Regions from separate parts of the Homo sapiens genome. Here region 1 is reported to be linked to region 2. The links are microRNA targets in miRTarBase. Many come from high-throughput screens and were not tested one by one. Region 2 holds a microRNA gene; the other region holds the end of a gene's coding sequence.

Evidence for each region. Region 2 holds the annotated microRNA hsa-miR-4300 (UGGGAGCUGGACUACUUC, at 1,100-1,117, shown strand). A microRNA usually pairs through its seed, bases 2 to 8, with sites in the 3' UTR of a target mRNA and lowers its output. Matches are read on the target gene's strand: a 7mer-m8 pairs with bases 2 to 8, a 7mer-A1 pairs with bases 2 to 7 and ends in A, and an 8mer does both.
Region 1: miRTarBase lists IL5RA as a target of hsa-miR-4300. Seed matches in the 3' UTR shown: 7mer-m8 at 2,819-2,825.

The regions. Positions count from the first base shown.
Region 1 is chr3:3,067,355-3,070,713 of GRCh38, reverse strand. IL5RA (interleukin 5 receptor subunit alpha) reads left to right here. Exons shown (of 12, transcript NM_175726.4): 12 at 403-3,359. The coding sequence ends at 489. Among named protein-coding and RNA genes, the nearest start is that of CNTN4-AS1, 7.9 kb to the right of the region's middle.
Region 2 is chr11:81,888,449-81,891,867 of GRCh38, reverse strand. It overlaps MIR4300 (microRNA 4300), which reads left to right and starts at 1,032; the gene lies at 1,032-1,127. The region is part of intron 6 of MIR4300HG (MIR4300 host gene); the gene reads left to right.

The DNA.
Region 1 (3,359 bases), not on the chromosome of region 2:
CTACTTGGGAGGCTGAGGCAGGAGAATCACTTGAACCTGGGAGGTGGAGGTTGCAGTGAGCCGACATCATGCCACTGTACTCCAGCCAGGGTGACAAGAGTGAGACTCTGTCTAAAAAAAAAAAAAAAAAAAAAAAAAGATGTGTATCCATATGACTTCAAGTAAGTCTAAAGAAAACATTATGCCTAGAAAGAAAGGCTTAGGAGAAGCAGTGGGCTGTGTTTGGGAGATAGATGTATGGCTAGGTATTTTCTTCTTCTTCCCACTTTATTTTTCACATCTTCTTTGTGAACATTTACTATTTTTATTTAAAAAATAATAGACTTAAAGCCAATTGTAAAGATTTCAAAGAACCCAAAAGTTCTCTAAAAGACATCTAAGGAAAGATGATTTGTTTTGCAGAAAGCTGGGTCCAGTGAGACGGAAATTGAAGTCATCTGTTATATAGAGAAGCCTGGAGTTGAGACCCTGGAGGATTCTGTGTTTTGACTGTCACTTTGGCATCCTCTGATGAACTCACACATGCCTCAGTGCCTCAGTGAAAAGAACAGGGATGCTGGCTCTTGGCTAAGAGGTGTTCAGAATTTAGGCAACACTCAATTTACCTGCGAAGCAATACACCCAGACACACCAGTCTTGTATCTCTTAAAAGTATGGATGCTTCATCCAAATCGCCTCACCTACAGCAGGGAAGTTGACTCATCCAAGCATTTTGCCATGTTTTTTCTCCCCATGCCGTACAGGGTAGCACCTCCTCACCTGCCAATCTTTGCAATTTGCTTGACTCACCTCAGACTTTTCATTCACAACAGACAGCTTTTAAGGCTAACGTCCAGCTGTATTTACTTCTGGCTGTGCCCGTTTGGCTGTTTAAGCTGCCAATTGTAGCACTCAGCTACCATCTGAGGAAGAAAGCATTTTGCATCAGCCTGGAGTGAACCATGAACTTGGATTCAAGACTGTCTTTTCTATAGCAAGTGAGAGCCACAAATTCCTCACCCCCCTACATTCTAGAATGATCTTTTTCTAGGTAGATTGTGTATGTGTGTGTATGAGAGAGAGAGAGAGAGAGAGAGAGAGAGAAATTATCTCAAGCTCCAGAGGCCTGATCCAGGATACATCATTTGAAACCAACTAATTTAAAAGCATAATAGAGCTAATATATCACCCCATATCAAAAGAGACGACAGATTTTGTTCAAATATTATATTCTTGAAGGAAGCCTTAATATTCTGGAAATGTGCTGAGGAAGTCATTGAGCATAATTCAATCATGAAAGGGACCACTGAATCAAGAATGAACTTTCTGAAGAGATGTTTGCTGCCAAAGACTTCAGAACAACTTGTTGGTCAAGTAATGCCAGATCAATCCTAGTCTCTCAAGTTTGGAAAAGTTTCTACAAGGCCATTCCATCAAATATCCCAATATACACAGAAATTCTTCTTCCTAACATCTTCATATATGAGTCTGCATCCAGATTGGAGGCCTTTGTGGTGGGTGGTGGACTGCAGGTGGAACCAAGCACAGGTGTGCCCTGGGCAGAGGTGGGCAAGAGGAAGGAACCCAAACAGTGCTGATTCCACATGGCCCTTGGTCAAGAAGCTGAAGGCCTAGAAAGGAGGTAACAGTGCCCAGAATCCCCACCTGGCACACTCTTTAAATGCTTTCTGGAGGTGTTTTAGTCAGTTTTGATCCATCGGTGGGGACACACTGACTACCATATATTTCCAGGTTTGTTTGTTTTCTTAACTAACCTGTAATTATCCACTGTAACTAGCAGAGGGTTGAACCCTGGGTAATAGGCACAGAAACATCTTGAATCTTGACAAGCCTGCACTGTCTTATAGTAATCTGTATTACTGTCCCATTTTATAGTTGCAGTTACTAAGGTTCAGAGAAGTTGATAGGAAATGGCATAGTGAGGAGTTGAATACCAGGCTCAGGTAAAAGTGACCCCAGAAATGTGCAGAGGAGTGTCAGGGAAAGCTGAGGCCTGCTTAGGGGTGTGGCTGAGAAGGCAACACCCATGGAGGTGCTGCAATAGTTGGCAAAATGTTTAAAATGTTTGGTCACTCAAATGATTCATAATCTCAAACCTGTTTTTGTTTTTTTTTTTTTTTTTTTTTGTGGGGTGGGTGGTGGAGACAGTCTTGTTCTGTCTCCCAGGCTAGAGTGTAGTGATGTGATCTTAGCTCACTACAACCTCCCTGTCCTGGGCTCAAGCCATCCTCCTCCCTCACCCTCCCAAGTAGCTGGGACTACAGGTGCATAACACCATTCCCAGCTCTTTTTTGTATTTTTTTTTGTAAAGCTGGGGTTTTGCCATGCTGTCTAGGTTCATCTCGAACTCCTGGGCTCAAGCGATACACCGGCCTCAGCCTTCCAAAGTACTGGGATTACAGGCATGAACCACCATTCCTGGCCAGGAAACTGTATTTGTAATGAACACCTTAGGTCAGAATCAGAGGCGCCTGGAGGGCTCCTTAAGACACAGAGGAGTGGGCTCCATTCTTAGAGTCTCTAACTGAATAGGTCTGGGTGAGGTCTGAAAAGCTGCGTTTCTAACAAGTTCTCAGGTGATGCTCATGCTGCTGGTCTCCAGGACACACTCGGAGAACTGCTGCTCCAGGAGAGTCTTATGAATACCAAAATTTGAAAATCAGCCGCTGAAGGAAGATGTGACAGAAAAGTCCTGTCCCCAGAAAACTGTCCTTTTGGGGCGGCTTGGAGCACCCTGTCTGATCTCTTTCAAACCACAACCCAGACAGTTGGCATTGTGGAAACTGCCTCTGCTTAGGAGGCAGGAACAGAAGCAGGGAGCTCCCCCTCCACAAATGTGGCCAGCTCTTCAGTGCTTGGTGTGGTGCCCACTTCAGACTCCTCCCTCCACTCAGCAGCCATAGATCACCTGGGCTCTGTGGAGCTCCTTGCCACACTTCCCTGAGCTGGTACCGTTATCTGGCCCTTGGTATATGTGTTTCAGGAGCAACACAAAGTAGCCCATTGGCCTCCTTGGTGGATTGGGAACTCCTTCCTCCCTTCTTGCCCTGTGCAACTCATAGTCATTCTTTGGGAACCCGTAACCATCATCACTTCCTCCATGAAGCCTTCAAAAGCAGAGTTGGTTGATCCCGCCTCTGGATTCTCATTCTGGGCCTCATACCCGTGTTAGAGCTACTGCATTGTAGAATATACCATTAACAGCTGGGAGGCCTCCCCTCTAGACTGCGGCTTCCAGGAGGATGGAGCTTGTGTGAAATACGTCTTTTTATCTGCAGTGTCTAGGACAGTATCTGACTTAAGAAAATATAAATGTTTCTTAAACCCTCTGTCAGCCCTGATACGGCACCTTGTATATA
Region 2 (3,419 bases):
CTCCCAGGCACATTATCATCAAACTTTCAAAAGTCAGAGACAAAGAGAGAAATCTAAAGACAGAAAATGAAAGGCATGAAGTCACATATAAAGGAATCCCCATCAAACCAATGGCAGATTTCTCAGCAGAAACCTCACAGCGGAGGTGAGAATGGGATAATATATTCAAAATGCTGAAAGGGAAATGTCAAGCAAGAATACCATACCCAGAAAAACTACCTTTCAAAAATCATGAAGAAATGGAATCTTTTCAAGACTAGGAAAAATTGAAAGAATTTATCACCTCTAGACTGGCCCCACAAAACAATGCTCAAGAGAGTCATACATCTGAAAATAAAAGGGTGACTCCTACCATCATGAAAACACATTAAAGTGTGGTACTTTAAAACTTAGTGGTAAAGCACACACACAAATGAGAAAGAATAGAACGATACTTATCAAAGAACGGAAAGAATGTAGAAAGTGAAGTATGCAGAGAGGTTGGTTAATGGTTATTTATGTAGAGTTAGATAGAAGAAGCAGTTCTAGTGTTTGATAGAACAATAGAATGACTACAGTTAACAGCAATATATATTCTGTTTTAAAGTAGAAGAGAAGATTTGAAATGTTTTGAATGTAAAGAAATAATAAATGTTTGAGATTATGGATATCCTGAATACCTGACTTGATCATTACACATTCCATGCATGTATCAGAATATCACATGTACTCCATAAATGTGTACAAATACTATATATCGCTTTCAAAAATGTAACTAAAAATAATAATTGAGGGAACCCTAAAGAGCTTTTGGTTATATGAGTTACAAAGTTTTGTGATAGAGCTGATTTTGTACTAACTCATCAGAGCTGCTTTTTAAAATTTCAGGAAATTTTGTTAGAAGTTTGTTCAACAACCAGGTCACAAATTACATTCTATACAATTACAATTAAGTAAATTTTATTAATACAAAAACCCCACAAAATATTCCAAAAATAGTAAGATGATGTCATATATGCTGGGGTACAAAAAAAAAACCCCAGTGTTTTCTATGAGTTTAGAAGAGGGCCAGCTAAATCAGCAGAGACATGAGGTGATCAAAAACCTTTTTTCAAAGCAGTGGGAGCTGGACTACTTCTGAACCAATATGGCCTATGCTAATGTAACTTAAAGATAACCACCTGGCTCAAACATAAATACTAGACGTAAATTCACCCAGAGGGGCTCAGGACTAGTAAGTAAGCTGTTGGAAGCCAAATAAAAGCATTTTCTAGCTAGAGGTAGTGCCAAAGACTTAGTCTACTCATTTCCCTTGGGTTTCTGTAAGTGAAGTACATTTCATTTCTAGTTATCTTCTATATGGTGCTGTCAATAACACCTTCCTAGCAGAGCTGTTGATTTATTAAATGAGATAATATATTAAAATTGTGATGATACATAAAATACCTCAATATTCTGTGACAGAAAACATCAGCTCTGTGTACAGGTAGACTAAGGCTTTTCTTACCTCAGGGCCCTACACAGAGCATGTGCTAATTAGTGGCTTATCAAATTATCAATTTGATATGGATCTGAGTTTTAGTGACTGTCAAGATCACCAAAAATCATGCAGTTTGTCTTGTGAAAACAGATTATGACCTGTATGAAAACTTGTATTATAACATATGCTTTATTATTAAAATACCTTTTAATTTAAAAATGCAAAACTGTGTTAAAATTTTAAATGACCATTATTATTATTACTTTGAGATCATAATCTTAACATTTTAAAAATATAATAACACAGAGTAGTTTCACTTTTATGCTGCGTTTATTCCACTTAATGTCATGTTAATATGTTAAATAAAAATATTTTCAGTGCTGCTTTAAATTGCCCTCGTTTAGTAGCAATAGATTTGGGCATCTTAATGTACTTATTGACGGTTTGTATTTTTTTTATCTTTGCTCAACTTTTCTTGCTGTCTTATATGCTTTTATTGGGGACATATTTTTGTTTATGTTAGCAGATATTCAGTTTTGTCATATATTAGGAAACATTTCTCTCTCTCGCTCTCTCTCTCAGTGTGTGTGTGTGTGTGTGTGTGTGTGTGTGTGTGTGTATGTGTTATTGTTATAGGTTGGTTATTAGGTTGGTTTAAGCTAGTATTTGGCTTAAAATTTACTTATGTTATTTTTGGCTCACCCTTATATTCTTTTCATAATTTACTTTTCAATTTTTATTTATAATTTTTTCTTTTCCTTAAAAGCCTAGAAAAGCTTTCATTTAGGCTACATTAATACATATTAACTTTTCTTTAAACTTCTATTAAATGATCTTATTTTAAGTTTATTTGGAATTTGTTGTTTTATGGTATGAGGTAGGGATTAAATGCTTTTTATTTGAATACTGGTTAACCAACTGTCATAGCACCATTTATTGAATAAACTATCATTTCTCAAGTAAATTCAAATTGTCCTTGGTACTTATAATTCTTTGGCTATTTCCATAGAAATAAGTTGAGAGATGGATTAGGTGGGTGAATAGGCCCATGTGTTATATTTGAAAGGTTAAATTGGGTCTTTGATATCCAAGTTGAGCTAGATCTTTGATTTATATATCAAATAGGAAAGCTGAAAGTATATCACCTGTGCTAGCAGATAATTGTAAAATCTATGGCAATTTCACTGGAAGTGTACCCTGATGTATTACCATATCCAAAGTTTGGAGATGAGATGCTTAGCTCTTTTAACTAGGAAACAAAGGGTGTCAACAGCTAGTTTTTTACAGTTCGCTGTACGTCCTGAAGCCTGAGAAGACTTTGTGTCACCTGTGAGTCCTAAGAATGAGTAAATCTACAAGATGCCCCTTCTTGTATTTTAGTGCCAGCTGTTTGCAGAACATTTGTGCAACCTCCAGTCTTTATCATCCTTTTAGATCACCTGAAAATAAGGGCATTTTAGGTATTTTAGAGGTGGTGGTCAAATCATTACCATGACTGTGTTGAACACTTAAGCCTGGATATGGATAAGAAAGAGGACGGACGTTGTAAGTGTTACCAAAACACCAGGAGTTTGATCTAAGTTCTGCTACTTGCCAAACAGAAAGCCAATCACTGTGACAATGAGTATTGGAAGGAAGAAGGCTTTAATTGGGTGCTGCAAGAAAGGAGATGGGAGATCAGTCTCAAATCCATCTCCCTGACCAACTAAAGTTAGGGATTTGTATAGCAAGGAAAAAATGTAACCATGAGTCGGAAAACAGGAATTAGAAAAGGGTAAGGAAGAGGAGTTGGTCAACAGGAAGCAGATGGTTGGTTATGCAATCATGACAGTTGAGGAGTTTCATGTCTCACTGTCCAACAGCAGTGACCTGCTGTGTTTCTGCTCTGTGATATTATCTGAGAGACCTGATGGTTGGTTCCCTGAGAAAGGAACTCAGGTAAGACAAAGGAAACTTTCTC